Linked DNA regions of Homo sapiens: region 2 is linked to region 1. Evidence: fine-mapped expression QTL. A gene starts in region 1. The other region holds a variant in brackets. All regions are shown on one strand. Distances are from middle to middle.

Region 1 (12,578 bases):
TGGGGGCTGCCTGTAAGTAGTCTAGGGGATTGATTACCTGGCTGGCTTCTTCAGAAATTCATCCAGGGTGGGGCCGTTTCGCCCCAGTGGGTCATCAGGTACCATGAAGAGGTTTCCCACAAAGGTAAAGGGCAGCAGGCTGGATGGCGAAAGATAATGTGTGGTCACAGAGGGGGCCCTTGCCCACCTCCCAGACAACCGAGACCAGTATCACCAGAAGCTGCTGGCTCCATCCTTCAAGAAAACTTCACCTCCTTCCCAGAGTTTTCACCCCATGGCCAGAGCAGAGCTGGCTTTAGAAAAACATCTGCATCTGTGCCCAGTTCTCAGCGGGAGGGCTCCCTCACCGTTCTCTGATGATTGCCATCCACTTCTCAGACTCCTCCGCCAGGTCCCGGAACTGGTCATTGGAGACAATTATCCCATCTGTCTCTTCAGCCAGCTTCACCATGAACCTGTCTCCAAAACCACAGCAACCGAGAGAGGGTTGAAAAATTACCTACTGGGTACAATGTTCACTGTTTGGATCATGGTTACATTAAAAGCCTAGACTTCACCACTATGCAATATATCTATGTAGCAAAACTGTATTGGTATCCCCCAAATCTACAAAAATAAAAGTAAAAACCACAGCAACCATTTGGGACTCTCCAAGGCCCCAACCCCAGAAGTTTTACTGTCTCCCATAGGCCACTTCTGGTGATGGAGATCTGGCCCCCTACCTCACCTTGACCCAGCTACAGGCAACTGACTAGATGCAAGTGCCATGGCCTAGAGAGGAAACAAAGATGAATCCAAGGTGGTCTCCCAGTAGCATCCTATCTGCCAACCATAGTCCTTCACCCAACACTTTGTGCCTCGTTAGTAAACAGTAAGATCTAGCTCTGTCTTCCACCCTGCCCAACCAATCCCTTGCAAATCCAACATGCCTTTCCTTTGAAAAGCCTTGTGCTCTGCTCCCTTCCTTCCCAGGCCCACCATTACCACCCCAGTAATTCAGATATTGCAACTGAGATTATGCATAACCTCCTAACAAGGGGGTCCCCGCCTCTGACCACTCACCCACCCTCCAGTCTCCCCTGCCCTGCCCCAAGAAAGCATGCTTATCACCTACACAAAACTCTTCCACACTTGCCCTTTATTTACCAAATAAAGTCCACACACCCAGGCCTGGCAGCTAAGGCCTTCTACAGGCCAGCTCAAATCACCCTTACAGCCTTATCTCTCCCAATATTCCCTAACCCACTCTCAACTCCAGCTAAAATCAATAATCAGATTACACTCTGCTCTCCACATATGTCTTATGCTGACTTCCATATTTCTCCAACTATTTCCTCTATCTGGAAGGCACTTCCCAAGACTTGCTAAGGAACAGAATTACCAAGGGAACTTTTTTAAAAAATGCCTGGGCTCCATTCAGTAATTCTGATTCCACAAGACAGGGTAGGACTCATGAAGTGATGGGTGGTGGTCTTTTTAACAGATTTAGAAACAGAGATCCAACCCATCCCAGTCTTCTCAACACAAAAACTCACAAATCTCTCCTTTCCCACAAAACCCCAGCCAGAATGGGGCTCCTTTCCCTCTGAGTTCCTGTAGTGTTTGATTTATGGTTTCTTTCGGCTCTCTAGTCAAGAATCAGATCTTGTTCCCAGTGTTCCCACCTCCTCCTGCAGGCCATGCACCTAGTACTAAGTGAGCAGTCAGTATTTGAAAGATAGTGTGGTATAGGGGGAACTGGGAGTCAGGATTAGGTGTGACAGATATCAGGCTCTGAGCTTCTGTCTGGGAAACAAATTAAGGGAATGACATACAAATGTCTATGGCCGGGCTTGGTGGCTCACGCCTGTAATCCCAGCACTTTGGGAGGCTGAGGTGGGCGGATCATGAGGTCAGGAAATCAAGACCACCCTGGCCAACATGGTGAAACCCCATCTCTACTAAAATGCAAAAAGTTAGCTGGGCACGGTGGCATGCACCTGAAGTCCCAGCTACTCGGGAGGCTGAGGTAAGGGAATCACTTGAACCTGGGAGGCAGAGGTTGCAGTGAGCCGAGATCGTGCCACTGCACTCCAGCGTGGCGACAGAGCAAGGCTCCGTCTCAAAAACAAACCAAAAAAAAATTATATGGTACACTTATGGTATGCAAATGGTATTTTCCAGTTAAGCATATTTTACTATGATCGCATTACACAGTATGTTGTTCAGCAACATTCATTCCGTATGCCTACGCTGTGTACCACTGTGCTTATTCACTGTTACTGGGCGAATTCCCAATTTATATTATGTTATCTGCCAACCAGGTCCCACACAACTGGGCAGACACATGCCTTTAACATTCATTAAAACGAACTCAATCTTCAGTTTCAATTCTGTTTCAATGCAGGTGTGGAAAGAAGATTCCATATCTTGGGTAATCTGTGACATCTAGATATAAATAGAATAACATTGGGAGAACGTAAACTGCTTTTTTGTAGAATACCATTTGCTTGTTAAGGAATAGAAGGTAAGTGTTTGAAAAGACAAAGTATATAATCACTATGGTTTGGAAAAACTAATTTTTAAAAACTGTATAATGTCCTAGAGAATAAAGAACTTGTAAATTTTTTAACTTGGCTTTCTAAAATCTGCTCATTTCTCACACCACCTAGGCAGACTATGGTAGAAGTGTGCCTTGTATTTTCATTCAAACCATCTGGCAGCTTTGAGGTCTAATTCCCCTTTGCTAAGACAGGTAACCACTCTGACCCTCTGTCTCCACGACTGTAGATTGGAGATATACCCGCTGCCACACTTGAGTAGGTCTGTGCAAAGTTAGGATGGAATGTCACTGTACTCTTGCCTAGCACCTTGAGCAAGGCAAGCACATACCTTATCTTTTTCGTATATTCACAAGGAGGGTAAATGAATGGAGGAGGACCCTGAGACAAAGAGGTTAATTCACTAAGAAAAGTTCCACAGTCAAAGTCAATGAGTAGTGCTACTTGAGGCTCAAATTCAGATCTTCCAATTCTAAATCCAGTGATCTTTCTATTATACCATGTTTTGTACAGTCCTATTATTCATGCGTTGTGTTTCTCCATTTTACTTGTTATTTTGACCTTTACTCTGGTTTTTCCAGAATGTTAGGGAAATTTCTCTGCATGTTTGGAAATTCAGGTTATAAGAAGACATCTGTCAGCTACTTATGTAACCAGCTTTCCCACCTTTCCACTAAACCAGTATTTTCTAGACAGTAAGGCACTATATAAATACAAGGTATCATTTTGTTTGATGAATGATGAATAGACAAACATGGTTGTCTACAGTTCATCTCATCACACCTGCAGGGCAGGTTTACCTACCCAATCATAAGGCACACAGAGGAATAACTGGCCCCTTACCCACCACCAAGGCTTAGAAACAGCGTAAACCACCAGGAGCTTTTCTCTCTCCCTCAGTCTTCCATAGGGCTCCTTCAATATCAAGCCTGGGGCCAGGAGAGGAGCAAGTACCTGTCATCATAGGAGGAGATCCTCTTGCCATCCATGACTCGTGAGGGTGTGAGGGAGAGCAGGCTGAGGGAATACAGCTTTTGCAGGAAGTGACTCTCTATTGAAAAAGAACATAATAGGGTTCTCCTCAAAGTGGAAACAGAGCCTATCCTGGGACACTGAAGACCAGGCCCAACTCACCTCTGACTTTGGCATCCTTACTGAAGCGCCACTGAGGCACAAAGACAGTTATGTCACGGTGACCACGGTCCCAGAAGTACTGCACAGCAATGGCAATGCCCCGGCTGGAGAAGTAGTGCTGGAGGCCATGCCTGTAGTGGGAGGGGGTCGGCCAGAGGAGGGGCTTGGCACCCTGGCTACAATGCCAGCCCCTCAGGACATATCCTCCCTCTCCTAGGCCCTTAGCCCCACCAGGTACTCACACCATGGCCACGTTGCTGCCGTCAATGACAATATGGCGGAGGTCTGGCTGGCCAGGCACATTGGCAAGGCACAGGGTGAAAGGATCCTGCAGGGCCTCCTTGAAACGCTGTGTGCCAGTCACCAAGTTGCCCCCTCGGGCGCCTCGTTTCCATTGAGGCCCCCGACCCCGTGCCATGCCCTGCTGCTTGTCTCCCCTGTCCCCCACGTCTCCCCGGTCTCCGCAGTCACCCCGGTCTCCACAGTGCCATGGGGGTTCCGGTGCAGGTGGAGGGCTGGGCACCCTCGGAGGAGAGGCATTCCCATTGTGGAGCCGCTGGAGGAGGGAGGCTCCTCGGGACTGAGCTGCCCTGTGACAGGAGCCATGGGCACCGGGAGGCTCACGGTGGACACAGAACCCTCCTCCTCCCAGAGCTATCTCCTCCTTCCCCAGGGCCTTCCCTTTCAGGGGTGCTGACTCCCTTGCCCCTCCACCCACTGACTGTGGCCTGAGGGCCACTTCTCTCTCCCACGCCTCTTCCCCAGGCAACTCCTTCCACCCCCAATCCATCTCCCTGGGACCACCCTGTTTCCCTCCCTCCTTCTCCACAGCGTAAGTGTCTCCCCTTGCTCCCCTGCAATCTCCGGGTCCCATAGATCCAGTGTCCAGGGACTCCCTGCCGTCACTAGGGGGAGCTCTCACTCCTTGGCACTGAGCACCCAGCAAGGCTGAGCTCCGCCCCTCCCAAGAAGCCAGTGCTCCTGGCCCCTGCCCACTAGACGCCTCCTGCACCAGACTCAGCAGCTCCTCCTGGACAGCCAGGGGCAACTGCAACAGAGCCTCTCTATGGGCATCCCCCGGGGACTGCAGCAGGGCAGAGAAGTCTCTCAGCACTCCAGTACACTGAGAGGCTCCGGAAGATGGTCCTGGCGTGAAGTCCCAGCTCAGCCGCTCTGCCAGCTCTTCTACCCGGCTCTGAGCCATGACAAAGGCTTCAGTCAGGCCACTGATCATCAGTGAGCCTGGCGCCCTGGGCACCAGATGGGCTGACGTGCTCCAGGCCAGGCAGTCAAGGAAGAAGCCCTGGGCTCCCAGAAAGATGCAGTGCAGTTTGGGCGGGTAGTGGATTTCATCCTGCAGTTCTGGGCTGCAGAGGCCCTTCAGGTACTCCTGGTTGGGAGGAAGGGAAGGTCAGGAAAAGTAAACTAACTGGCCCAGATCACCCCTCCTGGCTCCTTGCTCGCTCCTGAGCTCCAGGATGTCTGGAGTATCCACATGATGTTATTCCCATTTTAGAGATAAGGAAACTGAGACTCCCATCACAAAGCTGGTACATGATTGAGCCATCCTGGAACCCCAGCCTAATCCCAAAGGAAGCAATGTGGCCCAGCCTCCCACCCCACAGTGCATTCCTTGGTGGGGCCAACTTGTTCAGCCAGATATCTCTATTCTCCCAAAGAGCACAGAATGATTTTTGCCAGCCTGGGCCATCACAGAAGAAATTAAGCTGAAACTGAAAACAAATATAGAGTTGGAAAGTCCCTCAAAACTCAGGGGCACTGAGGTTGCCAGTGAGACAACCAAGAAGTGGAGATCCTCCCCAGGCCCCTCCTCTTCCCTGCTCTCCTCGGCCCTGCTCTCCTCCGCCCTGGGGGAAAGCGTCCTTGGTGCCTGGAGGGATGGGGGAGAGAAGGCGTTCACCTTGGCTCTGCTGGCGTTTTCCTTGGGGCCCTCCAGCTGCAGCCAGATGTGGGGGTTGTCCGGACAGTCCTTCGGAAGGACGCTCACCCCCACGCTGAAGATGCGCTCCACATGGGGCTGCTGTTCCCGAACCTTGTTCTCAGCCTCCGCAGACACCGCAAAGCGATCTGGGGACGCGGGGCGGGCCCCCCAGGTAGGCATGGCTGCTGCCCCCAGCCCTGGAAGGGGAGAAGGCAGCTCAGAGCCTCATTGTACCCTCCATCCAAATCCTGGTTCCTGGGACTACACCAGCTATCAACAGGTCGCACCTAGTTAAGGCTCTGGTAAACAGCCCCAGGAGGTGACAAGCATCTGAGTCCACTGGAGGTAGGGAGGGTGTATGTCACGCAGGCCTCTCCGGAGAGGAAGTCCCGGTAAACAAGGCTGTCTATCGAGAGTGGGCGTCTGGGCTTTGGAAAAGGATGACCACAGTCCGGAGCAAGAAGGGTGGGGGGGCTCCAGCTCGGCCTGGAGGCCAGAAGGAGTCTCCTGGGGCACTCTGAAGCTTCTTAAGGACGAATCCTCAGCAGGGGATTGAACTAGGCTGTCCTCTGGGGGCCCTGGTCTGCCATTTCCAAGGTTCAAGCCACTCCCACCCCTCCCCCAGCCGTCCGCTGCCCCTCTCCGTCGGGCCAGGAGCACCGCCCAGGGCCCAGGGGCCGGGCCGGGCCGGGCCCGCCCACCGCGGACTGGGGCAGCCACCCCGGGCCGGGCCTACTCCGCACCGCGGCCCCCGCTCCCCGCTCCCGGGCGCGGTGGAGGGGCGCGCCTACCGCCTCCGCCGCCCGCGCCGGCTTCAGGTCCTCTCAGCGCCCGCCAGGCCCCCGCTTTGCCCGCGCCCCCAGCCCAGGGGACAAGGGCAGGGGGCCCGAATCTGGGCGGGCCTTCCCGGGTTCCTCACCCAGCGGGGACCTCTCTTGTCCACATCGCACGCAAACTGTTTCTTGAGTCACTTCCTGGCCTGGGGCGGAGTCAGCCCAGCTCCTCCCGGCTGCGCGCCCTCCTCCCAACCCCGCCGCCGCGCCCAGAGGCCCCGACGGGCCCGCTCGGCCTAGTCCCCTCGGCGGCTCCAGGGCTCGCCCCTTGCGCTTCTCACCAGCCCTCCCGTCTGTCTCCCGGCCCTCAGGGTCCTCGCGCATTCTGCGCAGTTACTTCTCGGAAAGGGGAACCATGCGTTGAAAGTTGTTTCCCGCGAATAAAGATGTGGCCGACCAAAGAGGCAGCGTGACTGGCCCACTGGTGCTCTAGGCCCAAGCACTTTCCACCAAAGCAATCGTGGCGGAGGGGGTAGGCGGGAGGCGGGAGGCGGAGGGTACCCGTGGTGGAGTACCCCTTTCTTCCAACAAACGGAAAGATGCCACGAAGAAGGGCTGTTGATTTGTGGGGGATTTTGAAGAGAGGAAGAGTAGGAGGAAGGGGTTGAGGGGCTGCCTCTGGCATATGCACACACTCACACATTCTGTCACACCCGTCACACACACATACCATGTTCTCCATCCCCCCAGGTCCAGCCCTCAGTGCTGTCCCATCCAGCAGGGCTGCCCTGAAGCTCTGGCTGCAGCCCTCCCGTCCAGTGGGCAGGCGGCTTCATCCCTCCTTTCTCTCCCAAAGCCCAACTGCTGTCACTGCATGCTCTGCCAAGGAGGAGGGAACTGCAGTGACAGCAGGAGTAAGAGTGGGAGGCAGGACAGAGCTGGGACACAGGTATGGAGAGGGGGTTCAGCGAGCCTAGAGAGGGCAGACGATCAGGGTGCCGGCGGTGAGAATCCAGGGAGAGGAGCGGAAACAGAAGAGGGGCAGAAGACCGGGGCACTTGTGGGTTGCAGAGCCCCTCAGCCATGTTGGGAGCCAAGCCACACTGGCTACCAGGTCCCCTACACAGTCCCGGGCTGCCCTTGGTTCTGGTGCTTCTGGCCCTGGGGGCCGGGTGGGCCCAGGAGGGGTCAGAGCCCGTCCTGCTGGAGGGGGAGTGCCTGGTGGTCTGTGAGCCTGGCCGAGCTGCTGCAGGGGGGCCCGGGGGAGCAGCCCTGGGAGAGGCACCCCCTGGGCGAGTGGCATTTGCTGCGGTCCGAAGCCACCACCATGAGCCAGCAGGGGAAACCGGCAATGGCACCAGTGGGGCCATCTACTTCGACCAGGTAATCCCCCTACCCCTGTCCAGGGGACCTGGAAAGACCCTGCAAGGACCTGGAAGCAACTGTCCAAGCCCACTTTGCTGTCTCTGAGGCTTTAAGAAAACAGCTTCCTACATCTTTCACTAATCTGGCCTATTGCCCCACCACCCCACCGACGGTTTCCCCTCCCTCCACCCATACGCAGCCCTCTCCTTGCCCCTTCTCACCATTTCTTTTGAATCTGTTCACTCCTATTCACTCCTACTTGCCACTCCTTCTATTCATTACTCACTGCCCCTGCCCCTAGTCCCCATGGTACCCCTGAGCCATGGGCATTTCCTGAGCCCCACTCAGCAGGCTCTGCTTCCCCCAGGTCCTGGTGAACGAGGGCGGTGGCTTTGACCGGGCCTCTGGCTCCTTCGTAGCCCCTGTCCGGGGTGTCTACAGCTTCCGGTTCCATGTGGTGAAGGTGTACAACCGCCAAACTGTCCAGGTGACCTCAGCACTGGCCCCCATCCCCGGCTCAGGAGGGTGGGGAGGGGGAAGAAGGGGAGCCCAGCTGACCTCCGGGTGGACTCTCCATTGACCTGTGTCCTGGAGGCCAGGACCAGGGGAGGAATGGGCCTGCCTTGCATTGAGTGTGGAGGATGTGCAGAGTCCAATGCTGGCCGCCCCTCAGCCCTCCCGGGAGAGCCCATTAAAACCCAGCTTCCCAAGAGGAAGCTCCTGGGAAAGTGGGGGGTCCTGAGCTAAGGGCTGGGGAATGGGGGCTAACTGGGCTCCCCTCCCCAGGTGAGCCTGATGCTGAACACGTGGCCTGTCATCTCAGCCTTTGCCAATGATCCTGACGTGACCCGGGAGGCAGCCACCAGCTCTGTGCTACTGCCCTTGGACCCTGGGGACCGAGTGTCTCTGCGCCTGCGTCGGGGGAATCTACTGGGTGGTTGGAAATACTCAAGTTTCTCTGGCTTCCTCATCTTCCCTCTCTGAGGACCCAAGTCTTTCAAGCACAAGAATCCAGCCCCTGACAACTTTCTTCTGCCCTCTCTTGCCCCAGAAACAGCAGAGGCAGGAGAGAGACTCCCTCTGGCTCCTATCCCACCTCTTTGCATGGGACCCTGTGCCAAACACCCAAGTTTAAGAGAAGAGTAGAGCTGTGGCATCTCCAGACCAGGCCTTTCCACCCACCCACCCCCAGTTACCCTCCCAGCCACCTGCTGCATCTGTTCCTGCCTGCAGCCCTAGGATCAGGGCAAGGTTTGGCAAGAAGGAAGATCTGCACTACTTTGCGGCCTCTGCTCCTCCGGTTCCCCCACCCCAGCTTCCTGCTCAATGCTGATCAGGGACAGGTGGCGCAGGTGAGCCTGACAGGCCCCCACAGGAGCCCAGATGGACAAGCCTCAGCGTACCCTGCAGGCTTCTTCCTGTGAGGAAAGCCAGCATCACGGATCTCAGCCAGCACCGTCAGAAGCTGAACCAGCACCGTATGGGCTAGGGTGGGAGGCTCAGCCACAGGCAGAAGGGTGGGAAGGGCCTGGAGTCTGTGGCTGGTGAGGAAGGAAGGAGGGTGTATTGTCTAGACTGAACATGGTACACATTCTGCATGTATAGCAGAGCAGCCAGCAGGTAGCAATCCTGGCTGTCCTTCTATGCTGGATCCCAGATGGACTCTGGCCCTTACCTCCCCACCTGAGATTAGGGTGAGTGTGTTTGCTCTGGCTGAGAGCAGAGCTGAGAGCAGGTATACAGAGCTGGAAGTGGACCATGGAAAACATCGATAACCATGCATCCTCTTGCTTGGCCACCTCCTGAAACTGCTCCACCTTTGAAGTTTGAACTTTAGTCCCTCCACACTCTGACTGCTGCCTCCTTCCTCCCAGCTCTCTCACTGAGTTATCTTCACTGTACCTGTTCCAGCATATCCCCACTATCTCTCTTTCTCCTGATCTGTGCTGTCTTATTCTCCTCCTTAGGCTTCCTATTACCTGGGATTCCATGATTCATTCCTTCAGACCCTCTCCTGCCAGTATGCTAAACCCTCCCTCTCTCTTTCTTATCCCGCTGTCCCATTGGCCCAGCCTGGATGAATCTATCAATAAAACAACTAGAGAATGGTGGTCAGTGAGACACTATAGAATTACTAAGGAGAAGATGCCTCTGGAGTTTGGATCGGGTGTTACAGGTACAAGTAGGTATGTTGCAGAGGAAAATAAATATCAAACTGTATACTAAAATTACATTTTAAAAGTTGAATAATGTTTGAGTTAAATAGGAAATACCAAGGTGAATTTGTGGTTTTGAAAAGAAATAACTTTTTGAACTGTCACTAATCCTAAAAACAACATCAGGAACAATCTGATATCCATTCTTAGAAACTGGATCTTTGCTTCAGATATTAGTCACCATTAAAAAAAAATACCAAAAACCCTCAGGTTCCTTGGAGAATAGCTGCACACCTTAAGTAACTCCAGGCCCAGAACATGTTGTTGATGACAGAAAGCAAAGATACTTTTTAAATGTATAAAGTAAAGCTGAAAAGGCAAAGGAATCAATTTAAAGAAGCTCCCACTTGACATGCTTTGACAATTTGATTATCAAAAGGAAAATAATACAGTTAATTGGAACAAGGTGAATTTTTTAAATCCATGTACCTGCAATGATATTCAAAAAGGAAGAAGTCACTATAAAGTGTGACAAAAAGTAGTTAATATGCTGAGTGAAGAAGAGTGAATATAGGCTATTTTTAGTGAGTCGTGATAAGTACAAGAACATAAATATAGTAGGCATTTTGTCTATTTGCAAGGTACATTTGTTTTTCTTTATCTATGTAAGTAGGGAGGGGTGAGTACAGAGAACTGTGAATAATTCCAAGAAGATCTGGCACTGTGCCAAGAATGAAAGATACTGGTGGAACTATTTGAGTATATTTTGCAACTAAGAAGAAAAACAGTCCAATGGCGTGTTATAAGACAATGGATTAGTCAGATGTCCAAAAGACAACTGTTCACTGCTCAGGCTTGATCGTTCATCTCCTAGAAAATGGATCCTCTGTATTACCCCACTAATTATAATGAGATATTAATTAGGCAAAATGATTAAGAGTAGGTTTGGCTGTAACAGTAAAACCCAAAATAAGAATAGCTTAAACAAAATAGGAAATCATTTTTGTCTCACATAGAAAAATCTGTAAATAAGAGTCCAGGGATGGATGGCAGCCTTATGATCATTTGAAAGCCCAGTCTTCTGTCTTGTTCTACCATCCTTAGCTTGCCACCTCATGACCCAAGACGGCTCCCTGAGCTCCAGACATTACATCAGCCTAACAGGAAGGAGGAAGGAAGAAACAACACATCTCTTTCCTTGAAAGAAGCTTTCTGAAATATGCACCAATATTTCTGATTGTGTCTCAGTAGAATTTAGTCACCCGGGCTCACCAAGCCAGGGAGCTTGGCTAGGAGCTACAGTGTTTATTCCAGGCAGCCATGTCCAGCCAGAAGTTGGGAGTTTTATAACAAGGAAGAAGGGGAAATTAGCTATTGGGGAAGACAACTAGAAGTTGTTTTTTATTGTTGTTTTTTGAGGCAGAGTCATGCTCTGTCGACCAGGCCGGAGTGCAGTGGTGCAATTTCAGCTCACTGCAACCTCCACCTCCTGGGTTCAAGCAATGCTCATGCCTCAGCCTCCCGAGTAGCTGGGATTACAGGTGCGAGCCACCACACCCAGCTAATTTTTTGTATTTTTAGTAAAGATGGGGTTTCGCCATGTTGTCCAGGCTGGTATCAAACTCCTGGCCTCACGTGATCTGATTACAGGTGTGAGCTACCACATCTGGCCACAAAGTACTACCAACTTGGTGGCTTAAAACAACTGTTTATTACCTCACAGTTTCTGTGGGTCAGAAGTCCAACAAAACGTGACTGGCTTCTCTGCTCAGGGTTTCACAAGATCAAAAGCAAAGTATAAGCAGGGCAGCCTTCCTTACTGGAGGGGAAGAATCCACTTCTAAACTCATTTAAAGTTCAGTTCCTTACGGTTGTAGGACTTAGGTCCTAGCCCCCTCCATTCTCAAGCCAACAACTGCAAGCCAAGTCCTTCTCACACTTTAAATCTCTCAGGCCTACCTTTCTACCACATCTCTCTGACTTCAGTGTAGAAAGTTCTCTGAGTTTAGGGACTCGTGTGATTAGGCCCACCCAGATAAGCCAGGATAATCTCCCTATTTTAAGGTCCACAACCTGAATTGCATATTTGAAGTTCGTTTTGCCATGTAACATAACATATTCACAGGTTCCAGGGATTAAGGCATGGACATCTTCAGGACATCTGCATATCAGAGTCACTAAACTCAAAGATGGCATCATGTAGAGAAAAGGCATGCAGCTACAATACCACTGCATGGAAAACGTATGGGCTTGAAAATTTCCCATGATATATACAAGATAAATACCAGCTCAGATTTTAATCATTTTAGAAGGTGAACCAATTCCCAGGTCCCAACCAAAAATTCATTGATTAATAATCCAAAACTTGATCTACATTGAGATATATTTTTATTTTAGATATCTAAATTCAAAAATTGCCCTGAGCTGAGATAATGTCTCTCAGGTCTACCACCCATTTTTATAGTGGATTTAAGCATAGGTGTTATAAACTTTATAATCCTTATAATGGTATGTGTCCCTTACCAAAATGAAGCTTTTAGAGAAACTGACATATTAGTGATTCAGTTGAAATATTTAGGAGGATTTGATTGTTTTTAATCAACGTTTAAATCATTTAACTTGTTAAATGTATAGATTTTGATTTGCTGGTTATAGAAATCGTGTTCAA
Region 2 (12,578 bases), 360 kb before region 1:
ACACCTGATAGCTCAGTCATAAATCTGCTCTCAGAAGCCAGGTGCAGGGGCCCAAACATGTAATCCCAGCACTTTGGGAAGCAGAAGCAGGAGGATCACTTGAGCCCAGGAATTTCAGACTAGCCTGAGTAGTCTCATCTCTACAAAAGCGAGACCTCATCTCTACAAAAATACAAAATTAGCCAGGTGTGGTGACATGCGTCTGTGGTCCCAGCTACTCGAGAGGCTGAGGTAGGAAGATCACTTGAACCCAGGAGGTGGAGGTTGCAGTGAGCTGAGATGGCACCACTGCACTCCAGCCTGGGTGACAGAATGAGACCGTGTCTCAATAAATAAATAAATAAAAACAAATCTGCTCTGAGAGGCCACCACTTTTCCTACCTCGGTGTCTTGACTCACACTAGCTGCTGGGCCTGGGGCGCTTTCCCCGACAGACTCATTCAAATTCTACCTATCTTGCAGGGCTCCACTCAGTACATCTTCTTCCCACAAAATTCTCCCTGATTTTCTGCCAGGCTGAAGTAATCACTTACTTCTTCCTGTTCATGCTCATTGCCTTTCTTGGCACTCTAGAACATTCTGCTGTATATCACAGATGAGATCTGTCTTCTTACTAAACAGGTGGCTCGTAGAGAACTAAGACTAAATCTCAATTATGTCTGTGTATCTAAGGTCTACATTAGTAGACCGATAAATAGGTGTTCATTGATTCAATGAATGCATGGATGGCAACCTGCTACCATCACGGTTTATCAGTTCTTCCGTCCTGCTTTGTTGGGTTGGATGCAGCTTGTTCCTGCCAAAACTTATGTTGAAATTTGATCCTCAACATGGTGGTGTTGGGAGATGAGGCCTAGAGGGAGGTGCTTGGATCACGGGGGTGGATTCCTTATGAATAGATTAACGTCCTCCTGCAGGGGTGAGTGAGCTTTTGCTCTCAAGTGGATTAGTTCCTGTGAGAGTGGCTTGTTAAAGAGTCTGGCTTCCTCTGTTTTTCTCTCTCTCTTCCTCTGTCACCATGCAATCATTTTGCACATGCCCACTCCCCTTTCACTTTCCACCACTAGCAGAAACAGCCTGAGGCCCTCACCACATGCAGCTGCCCAATCTCGAACCTTCCAGCCTGCACAATCATACACCAAATAAAACTCTTTTCTTTATAAATTACCCAGCCTCAAGTGTTCTGTTACAACAATACTAAGTGAACTAAGATACCCCCAACCCAAGAAAAGATCAACTTTAAATATTTTTCTCTTTAACATAATTTTACTGCTTCTATTTATATATTAATTTTGATATTTTTTCTCTTGAGCCTAAACTCTACTGAGAAGTGTGTGTGTGTGTGTCTGTGCATGCACATGTTAGACAAGACATTTCTCCAAACATTAGTTTCCTCATTCATAACATTAGAAAGTAATACTTATTTCATAGGGCTGTTGTAAGGATTCAATGGGACAGTACATATAGAGCATTAACATGGTGGTTTGCACACTGCAGGCATTCAATGCATGTTAACTTGATCATGGTGGTTATATGTATGTTTGGCTATGAGAAAGCTGAAGTCTTCATTTTCGGAATAAAATAAATTTAAAAGATGATTGAAAATATAGGCATCTATGACTTATGCCAATGCATATCTTGCAAAGAATACTATAAACCCTTAACTGGTCATGAAGAAGAAAGAAGGTGAAAGCGTAACCTCCCTGGAACAGAAGGCCATTACATGGTGTGAGTGAGAGCCTAAGACAGAAATGACACCAACCGTTTTGACCAATGAAACTTTGTGTGGCAGTGGCTGATAGAAGTATGGCAGATTTTTTTTCTTTCTTCTTTTTTTTTTTTTTTTTTGCAGATGCCAGCAGCACAGCTAGTGCCTCCTTACTGTCAGGTGGGGTGCAGCTGGGGAGAACCCGCGGTAGAGAATGGGAGGAGCACACCTGGTCCTTTAGAAGAAGACTTGGACCTGGGAAAGGGTACCAGCAATGAACTCTTACATTCCAGATATCTCAATTGTATGCTGAAGGTTTCCTCCTAGACTCTTCTCAGGAGAAGTATGTATGTAGATCATGCATGTAATTGCCCCAAGGTGTGCAAACCAAGAGCCAGAAGAGACCTTGAGAGGAAGTACGCAGCCACAGCAGGTGAAGGTCTAAGTCACTTGGGAATAATTTATGTTTTCTTCTTTAACTGACTTGATGGTACTTTTGATAACCTATTCATGCACCAGAGACCTTCACTCCCCTGGCTACCTTAGAAAGACACTAAGACCACTTTCAGTTTAGTACAAGCAATTTTTTTTGTTCACCTGGACTGGAAACAGAACCATGAGAAACACTGTCAATGGCTGTGACCTTCAGATAATGGAGTACTAAGATAAACTAAAAGTCTGGTTTGAGAGGGTCCTTGTGGTAAGCTGATTAATGTGCCCCCAAAAGTGTCCACATCCTAATCCCTGGAACCTGTGAATATGTTACCTTACATGGCAAAAGAGACTTTGCAGACGTCTTCAAGGTAACAGACCTTAAGAAGAAGATTATCTAGGTGGATCCAATGTAATCACAAAGACCTGGATTATCTAGGTGGGCCCAATCTAATCACAAAGATCCTTATACGAGGGAAATAGGAGGGTTAGAGTCAGAAAAAGTTGATGTGATGATGAAAGCAGAGAAAGATGCCTTGAAGATGAGAGGAAGGGGCCACAAGTCAAGGAATGTAAATGCCCTCTTGGAGGTAGAAAAGGCAAGAAAATAGATTCTTCCCTAGAGCTTCCAGAGGAACAGGGCCTTACTGACACCTTAGTTTTAGTACGTCTGATGTCCAGAACTATCAGATAATAAATTGTTGGTTTAATCCACTAAGTTTGTACTAACCTGTTACAAAAGCAATAGGAAAGCAATACATTCCTTTACCCTCAAGGCAAAGTGTGTAAGCATTCAGGAGAACTTGCTCATAATCTGCGGGGTAGTGGTATCCCCTCAAAACCAGGGAGAACCAATACTTCCTCTTAGGGCAACCTTGGTCATGATCAACAAACATGTACTGAGGATTTATGGATCTGTCCTGGAAATGGAAATGTGAATTCAGACCTCAATCTCAAGGATATATTCATATAAAGAAAAATAAAATTTTAAGGCAAACTATGCTAAATTCCAAATGAGTGACAACTTCAGCTAGGACTTTAGGCATTCAGAGAATGGACCCATGCTTGACTGCAAGAAAATGCTGCTCCTCATATTTAGCCTTTCCACAATAGGCATGGGACTGTGCATCATGTTTGTATAGGACAGTTCAGGTTTATATCAATTGTCTTGGTGCAATCATGAATAGTGATTCCTTTCATTCTCAAAAGTGCCTGGCTTCATGGTAAACAACATGGTCACTCTGATAGGGTGTTAGACAGGAAGCCACTAGATTCACCATGCACTGTTAGGAAGAGCTTTGAGTTTGAATTTCAATCCAGTATCAAAAATGATCCCCAAGTTTTTGTGCCACTGAAATCGCAGTACAAAACACTTTCAGTAGATTGTAAGTAAAACAGACATTTCAATAATACTTGACTGTCTTAGTCTGTTTTTTGTTGCCATAAGAGAATAGCTGAGACTGAGTAATTTACAATGAACAGAAATTAATTTGGCTCATGTTTCTGGAGGCTGGGAAGTCTAAGACTGAGGCGCCACATCTGGCTGCATCATTCTATTGCAGAAGAGTGGAAAGGCAAGAAAACATGAGCGGGGAAGGAGGTGGTGAGGGGAGGTGAGGAGAGGAGAAGAGAAGGGACGAGAAGGGAGGACAAGTGAATGGAGGGGAGAAAAAAGAAGAGAAGGCGAGAGAGGAAGAGGGAGCCAAATTCACTTTTATTACAAAACCACTCCCACTGTAAAATATCCACTCCCCGGCTAACAGCATTAATCCATTCATGAGGGCTCTGCCATTAGGCCCCACCTCCCAACACTGCTGCCTTTGGAGTTGTTTTCAACACATGAATTTTGGGGAACACATTTAAACCATAGCATTGGCATACAGTATTTAGATTCTCTTACTGGCAAGTTGACATGAGGAAATTTAAATTACATTATCTAATGAGATACAGCGGTTTTAATACACAACACCTCCTACAACTAAAGCAGCTGGGGAGAAGGCCTTTGGTTTGCTTCAGATTGGTTTTGTTTGGTTTGGTTTCTAAGCCATTCTTATGAGCAGGATGGTGGTAGTGGGTAGAGGGTTGGAGAAGAAAAGAAGAGGAAGAGTTTAAGAGAAAGAATATAAGAATATAAGCAGGCTTGAAGAGAAAAGAAAAGACAGTGCTAGATATCTTGTCATATTTACCAGGCTTGAAGAGCAATCGTTGATTCTACCCCTGAACTTGATTCTCAAAGTGCTGTCCTTTCAAAGACATGTCATGCCCTGGGTGGAAGGTTAGAGTGGAGCACAACTCACTCAACTCTGAATCTGTTCTAGTAAGTTTCTTAGCAGTGTAAAGGTGAGAACAATGTGTGGTGCTTCGAATCTATCTGTCACGTCAAACCAGGTGTGGGCTGAGTTATGTCACTCAAATTGGTCCATAAAGGGATGAGAATTAAAATGCTGACAAAATGAGCACATCGAATTATTGAAAGCTATTTAATATGCTCAAGTTCACACCTACCTTTGGGAGATTTAAACGAGACTCCCTCTTCCAGCTGTTTTTTCTTATCTTCTGACCAACTTATTAACCAGGATTAATACAACATTTAATGCTGGGTGTCTTTTTTGGGCATCTCTTTTCTTTTTCCTTTTTTAATTCCTCCTTATATCTCTCCTTCCCTGGGATGATACCACTGGTGACTCCCGGGCCGCCCTCTAGTTGAGCCTGCAGGTGATTTTAGTCTAGTTTCCCTTTGCTTTGCACAACCTACCTCAACACTCCCTTTCCTTTCCCTTCCTCCTCACTTTTCTCATAAGATATTTGTGTAGTTTTGTGAGAGGAAGAAGAAAAAAGAGAAAAGAGGAACAACTGATGAGGAGGGAAGCCTGAGGTGAGGGGCACGAGGAGGAGTGAGAAAGGGTACAGCGTGAAGGAGAGGGGTGGGGGGTTGGAGGGAGGAGGGAAGAGTGGGAAGAAGCACGGAGTGGCATACATGAGGGGAAAAGACCACGAAGGAATCCTGGTCAGTCACAGACCCTGTGCCGCCTCCATGTTTTAATGTCTCAGACAAGCCGAAAACGGGTCTGTGGGAAGTTGTAACACTCACCAAACCCTTGGCAACAGCTATTCTTCACAGAGCCTGTGAACAATTGCCCACCTGCCAGTGTCTGACTGAAATAATAGCTGTACCTACAGGATCATTTGGAAGACAGATGGCGGAGGCAACCCCATTCATCTGCTGGCAGCCGTTTCATAACTCTCACTGTCCTGTCAGGCCAGGATGGGAAGGCAGAATGCAGCCTTGCTAATTACTGAAGCTCATTAGATTGTTGTTTTTTGAGAGACCATTCCCCTATCCCACCCCTGTCCTGCGCTTCCCCCCAAGCCCCAATGTGCCCACCCCCTCCCACAAAGTGCTTTCAGGAATACCATTGGCACCCTTAGAAAAAGCAGATCTCCAAAGTCTAAAAGCCTTAATGTTTGCTAGGTGGAGGGTTTGTTTTTGTTTTTGTCTAATATTTTCACTCTGTCCTCTTTCCTTCTTGCACATCCAAAAAGGGGTCCCTCATCTTCCCTAGTATTCACTACTTCCATGATTCTGGCCCATCGGTATTTATTTCAAAGACTGGATGACTCTTCCAATATTCCATTGTCGTTTTCTACTTAAAGTGCCATACACTCCTGTTATCATTTTTATAACGTGCATTAATCCAAAGGCTTTCTCTTAATGCAATGTGTATGGATTTAGAGAGCCTTTAAGAGCTCCGTATCATTTCAGTATATCTGATATCCTTCGTTGTCATTCAAAATCAATTTTTGAGAATTCACTATGTGGATGTGAAAAGGAGTGAGAATGGGGAGAAATGGAGAGATCTTACAAAGGAGGGCTGGCTTTATGAGCATTAACCAGTGCAGTGACCCAGGACCCCATGTTCCCTTTCATACTCTGCAGTCACCATCTTGAAATAATTAAACGTGTTTAAACAAGAGCCCGTCATTTTGCACTGAATTCCACAAATTATGTAGCTGGTTCTGCTTCAACTATTGGAAAAGTATAGAACTGCTGAGGGCTCAGGAAGGAGTACTTTCTGAGCCAAAGTTAAGAGGCTGGAAAGCCCACAGTAAACAGAGATCAGCAAGTGGAGAAGACAAAGATCAGACCATTCAGCAAAGAAAACACAGACAGAAAATATTAGCATCCATTAGAGCACTACCCCAGGAAGGGGCC[CT/T]GCATTTGACCTGCTGACAAAATCAAATTTCCAAGCCTGAAGACTGCAGACAGACCCCAGATCACTGAACACTCACCAAGGTGACAGCACCATCCCTGACACTTCTTTGGAAACAATTGGCTGGCGTCAATCTTTTCACTATAGTACCGATTTCACTAAATACCAGTTCTACTAAAACTTTAGCAGAAGATGCATCAGAAGGATTTGTAAAATAATAATAATAATAATAAGCCTGGAATGTAAGTGTGAGTCTGTAAAAGTAAGGCTTTAAATGCCACACTGAAGCGAAAGGGGAAGCTCCTGAGTATTTGGGGTGGGAAAGTGACTGGGAGCTCTGGCTGCTCCAAGAAAGGAAATATTCTTTCTAGACACATCTGGCCCTTTGTTCCTAAGGCTGGTACAGTAACAAACCACTCACCACCACCTTCCCCTGTGGCATGGTCCCCACTCACTACTCTCCTTTCTCACACTGCTTTTCCCACCCCATAAACATACACAGCAGAAGTCTCCTTGTTGTCTTCAGCTTTGGCCCTGCTGCTGCCTTGAACTCAAGTCACAGACCGTGCATCAGTCCATCACACTACACATGCCTGAATTTGTACCTCTGATCTCTTCCACGTTGCTTAGGTGAGTAATCCCGTACATAGCCCTGCTTGTGGCAGGCAGAATTCTAAAGACAGTTTAGTACTTAGGCAGGGCATGATCAAGGCAAGCTTTAGGATTAGATTTGAAGGGATAATGGATGAAAAATGAGAGATGAGAGTCAAGCCAACCAATTGGGAGATTATTGCAAATGACCAACATGAAGAAATAAGGTCCAAAATTTAATGGCATTAGATATGGATAAGAATGATAGATTTGAGAGTCTCTATGAAAGAAAACTGTCCTGACTTAGCAACTGATTGGATGGGAGAGAAGAACGCCTTCTCAAAGAGTTGAAAAGAATATGATAGAGCATCCATTAAAGTAAGTGGAAATAAATGTGTTCAAGTCCTGAAGATGACTCTTCTAAGATAAGAAGGAACCATGTTAGTTAAAATTGTTAGTTTCATGTAACAGCAACAATTCAATTCAAACTAGCTTAAGGGGCTGGAGAGTAGGAGGGTGCTACATATTAACATGCAGGTGTGTCATAGACTCTAGAGATGGAAGGTAGCAGAGCCAAGATGGTGGGAGCTGTCCTGCCCAGTGGGTCAGGCCCAGAACTGGGCAGGACAGCTGGACTGGCCCAGGTTATGGAAAGTCCCTGAAGCCACAGAGTGCTCCCTTTCCATCTCCCATCTCTTATTCTCCTGAAGACCATCCTTCTGGATCAGTTAGCCCACACAGCTGATGGAAGATAGCCCTAGCATAGCTGTAGGGTTAGAGAGAAGCCCCGGCTAAGCTGGAATTACTTAGTCCTGATTCCCAATCCCCAGGGGAGCTCATCATCAGGTTGGCTAAGATGGTTGTCCCACTTCTCACCACAGTGCCATACTGCAACTCTGTGGGAAAAGGGGAGAAGAATTAATTCTTGAGCAAGGCAGATACTCCCAAAGTTGTTTACCCTAAAAGCAGAAGTGGTATTTCAAATTTTAGTTTTCACAGACCCAAGAATGTACTCCTCTTTCTACACAGAAGAGTTTAGAATCCTGCAAAAAAGCAGCTGGATTCTAAACCCTATGCTCCCTCTAACTAGTGGTTTGAGTGACCCTTAGTACTTCTGACTATAAACTATGAAACTTGGCCCAGGTGATGCTGAGGGCTCCCATATTTAATGCCCAATGATTCTAAGTCCTTTTGAGAAGAAACAATGCTATATTGATCTAGTTCTCCTGTTTAGCTTTCCCTTGTCCTCCAAAGATCAGAAATAAAGCCTTTTACCATTAATCCTCTCATTGACTTATAAGAGGTAAAGAGCAGCCAAAGAAAATAGTTTGTAGTTTGTATTCCAAGAGAGCTAGACCACCTAAAAATCTCCTTAGTACTCGAAAAAATTTTAAAAGGAGCTTAGTTTTAATTGGCTTAAAGTCTCTTGACATAAGTAGTGGTTCTGTTTCCCACCACCACCATCAAAAATGTGTCCCTGAGACCCACTGGGAAGGACAGCTCCCACATCCTGGCTCTCTCCTGCAGTTTTTCTTAGAACTATAGAAGGTTAGACCTTCTGGTGCTTTAGTGCAATCCCTTCAATTTTTTTTTCATTTTTTAAATTTATGATTGATACAAAATCATCGCACATACTAATGGGGTACAACATGATGTTTCAATACATGTATAAATTGTGTAATTATCAAGTCAGGGTAATAAGTATATCCATCACTTTAAACATTTATCGTTGCCTTGTGAAGAGGACATTCAAAAACCTCTCTTCTAGCAATTTTGAAATATACAATGTATTATTATTAACTCTAATCATCCTACTATACAATAGAGCACCCAAACGTATTCTTCTTATCTAACTGTAGCTTTGTACCCATTGACCAATCTGAAACAATCCCCCTTTTCCCCCTACCCTCCCCATCCTCTGGTAACCATGATTCTGCTCTCTACTTCTATGAGAACAACTTTGTAGCCTCCATATATGAGTGAGATCATGTGGTATTTGTCTCTCTGTGCTGGGCTTATTTCACTTAACATAATATTCTCCAGGTTTATCCATGTTGCCACAAATAACAGGATTTTATCTATGACTGAATAATATTTCATTTTGTATATATACTACATTTTCTTTATCCATTAATCCACTGATGGACATTTAGGTTGATTCCATATCTTGGCTATTGTGAATAATGCTAGAATAAACATAAAAGTGCAAATATATGTTTGACATACTAATTTAATTTCCTTTGAATATATACCCAGTAGTGGAATTGCTGGATCATATGGTAGTTCTAGTTTTAACTTTTTGAGGAACCGCCACACTGTTTTCCATAGTGGCTACACTAATTCATATTCCCAGCAGCAGTGTGTAAGTGTTCTTTTTTTCTCCACTTCCTTGCCAACACTTCTTATCTTTTAATTTTTTGATATTAGTTGTATTAGTTCATTTACACGTTGCTGATAAAGACATACCTGAGACTGGGAAGAAAAAGAGGTTTAATGGACTTACAGTTCCACATGGCTAGGGAGGCTTCACAATCATGGCGGAAGGTGAAAGGCACTTCTTACATGGCAGTGGCAAGAGAGAGAATGAGAACCAAGCAAAATAGGTTTTCCCTTCTCAAACTATCAGATCTTATGAGACATATTCACTGCCACGAGAATAGTAGGGGAGAAACCACCCCCCTGATTCAATTACTTCCCACCAGGTCCCTCCTACAAAAGTGGGAATTATGGGAGTACAATTCAAGATGAGATTTGGGTGGGGACACAGAGCCAAACCGTATTATTCTGCCCCTGACTCTTCCCAAATCTCATGCGCTCACACTTCAAAACCAATCAAGCCTTGCCAACAGTCCCCCAAAGTCTTAACTCATTTCAGCATTAACTCAAAAGTCCAAAGTCCAAAGTATCATCTGAGATAGGGCAAGTCTTTTCTACCTATGAGCCTGTAAAATCAAAAGCATGTTATTTACTTTCTAGATAAAACAGGAGTACAGGCATTGGGTAAATACAGCCATTCCATATAGGCTTCATAGATATTATCTCTGTCCCCAAAGGATTAACAATTAAAAACCAAAAATGAAACAAATATAGAAAGAAAAGGACTATAAAATATGTGCAAAATGAATATGCAAGGCTATTAAACATTGCCTGAGGATTGATAATGTCATCATAGCCAGTGGGGAGTCCAGGGTCATTAAAAACTAAATTATTTGTTAAAGGCCATTTTCTCAATGTCTGACTCTAGTCCATGCCAGATTTTAGTAGGGCACTTGGCCCATTCTGCTGTTATTTTCCTTGAAGTTCATTTCTCGCCTTACTCTTGTCTTGGAAATGTAATGCATCACTGAGGTTGTCCTGAGTTTATGTTGTATTCACTTTTAATGCGTGCTAACTGATTGGAAATGAGAAGCAGATGGACACTTGGACCACAGATTTACTCCATCTCCTGTAATTAGATGGTGCCAATTAAGGCTTCCATGGGGTCCTTCTCCTCACTGCCAAGTAAAAGAGCTCTCCAGTGGGGCTCCTGAAAGCATTTGGGAACTAATGGTTTATTCAGTTCCTCCTTTGCATTTATTCACGGATACTGAACAAACAGAAGCCAAGTTGTCTTTGTCTTTTTTTGGTTTTTCTCTAACAGCTTCATCTTTTGACTTTTTTTTGGCAAGAGTTGAAACTGAATAAAGGGGATGGCCCTTGGCTGAACTTTGCTTCCTATTTTGAGTTAGCAGAATTTAGTTGGGGAAGGTGGGGCAGGGAGTGGGGACTCTGGGCAGAGAGCTGCAGAGTCTTAAGAAAGTACCGGGCTCTGAAACTCAGCCTCTAGCTTCTTCCAACACAGGAGGACAGGCAAGAATTTGGAGACTGACAGACCTTAGTTTGAGTCTTGGCCTGGTTATTAGCTGTAAGCTGTGTTATTCTGGTAAATGGCTAAACACAAAGATCCCAAAATATATAAATAAAGCCCTCATTTGTAACATGTGCCAATTTCTGTGATGCAAATACTCCCACCATAGCTGATTTCAAGCTACCAATGTGATGTCGCAGAATGCAAAGTTGGGAAGAGACTGGTACTATTGGCTCTCATAACCCATGTAAGCAGGCTGTAGCACATCCCTGGCTGTGATCCCCAGCTTCTTCATCTGTACAAAAGGGACAAGGTACCCTGTAGGGTCATTTTTAAGATTAAAGCAATAACTGCAAAGTGGCCAGAACAAAGCCTACCCATCCTAGGAGCTCGATAAATTGTCCCTACATATTATTATTTTAAGCTGGGCCTTAGGAAGTGGCTTTACACTGCTGAGCACTCCAAGAAGTCAGAGCCTCAGATTTCAAATTTTGGCAACTAAATTTCATTTCATAGGTATGACCAGGAATCTGGGGAATTGATTCAGCTAATCAAACTCATAAGAGGCATTTATATAAATCACAATGCCAATTTACTACTTTGATTTAGAATTTATATAGAATAATGATTTCCCAAACCTGAACTGGGTCACATGCCCTAATAAAGGATTTCTTTTCATGGCTTAGGAAGTTGCTCATATGCAAAGTGCTATAAATGCATAAATGTTAATTATATTTAAATATGGTTAAATAATTATCTTGATTAAAAAATTAAATTGAGGCTGCCCCAGAAATTCCTGGGGCTATGTTCACATTAGTATATTCCCGGCCTGAGAACCAAAACTCCTATTCTGCACTGGTCTCCTTGCAGGCAGCTAGCTCTTACGTTCACCCTGTGGAAGACTGAATAGGTGGACATGGTTAAGTGGAGAGTATATTTAAGCATCTCTGAGGGAGTACTGCCTGGGGTTTCCCAAACCACAGCTATAATGATAGATTTTAAACTCACTGAGTAAAGAAAAAAAGATGGAGATTACCATTTCCATTTTACTGTTATGCAAATTGACACATGAAGAGGCAAGGACATATAGAAAACTACTAGAAGAGCTCAGACCAAAATTCAGATTTCTGAAGCACACTTTGGTGCTCTTTCTTCTGTCCCTGGGATGATCAGTTGGGCAACACAAAAAGCATACAGTTCAGTGCAGGAGAAAGCCACATATGTAGATGACTATTAAAAGAGAGTGAGAATTGCTATGACAGAGGTGATGGAAGCATATACAGGATGTTATGGAAACACCATCAAAGGAAAACTAACTGAGAATGGAAGAGGAGATTGGGAATGCGACATGGCTGGGGGAGGTTCCAGAGGTGGGGACCTCTGAGCTGAGTTCTTAAAGGATGAGTAAGAATTATCTCGGGAGAGAAGGACATTGCAGGTTGGTTTCATTAAGAAACAGATTCTAAAAAGGGTATTAGCACATAGAGATTTATTAAGAAATGCTCTTGGGAGGGAAAGGACACAGGATTGGAGTGAAGGAGTAATTGAGCTGTAATACAGTCCAAAGTCCTCAACCAATCCCGAGAGAGGTTAGAGCTGAGGTGGCCCATTCAGAGTTTTTCCAAGCAGGAGTGAGGGAGCCTGGCCATTATACCACCTTGTTGGTCAGTCACTAAATGAGGGCTGCCCCTGAAAAGAGGTGTGACTTAGGGTTTGCCATTTCCTTCCAAAGAAGGCTGATAGCTAAGGGCTATTTTCCAGCAGCAGGTGCTGGAGAAATCAATCCTTC

What was found.
Region 2: its variant is fine-mapped to the expression of CBLN3 in minor salivary gland (GTEx, PIP 0.97).

The regions. Positions count from the first base shown.
Region 1 is chr14:24,423,949-24,436,526 of GRCh38, reverse strand. It overlaps CBLN3 (cerebellin 3 precursor), which reads left to right and starts at 6,859. Exons shown (of 3, transcript NM_001039771.3): 1 at 6,859-7,772; 2 at 8,122-8,241; 3 at 8,541-9,982. The coding sequence starts at 7,473. The coding sequence ends at 8,738. KHNYN (KH and NYN domain containing) reads right to left here and starts at 6,573. Exons shown (of 8, transcript NM_015299.3): 1 at 6,408-6,573; 2 at 5,596-5,813; 3 at 3,917-5,064; 4 at 3,675-3,805; 5 at 3,495-3,591; 6 at 348-455; 7 at 38-139. The coding sequence starts at 5,796. RefSeq lists enhancers at 4,155-4,716, 4,717-5,278, 5,317-5,426, 5,279-5,842, 5,987-6,166 and a silencer at 6,197-6,736.
Region 2 is chr14:24,787,557-24,800,134 of GRCh38, reverse strand. No RefSeq gene overlaps it. Among named protein-coding and RNA genes, the nearest start is that of GZMB, 160 kb to the right of the region's middle. The variant CT/T (reference allele first, on the strand shown) is at 6,354.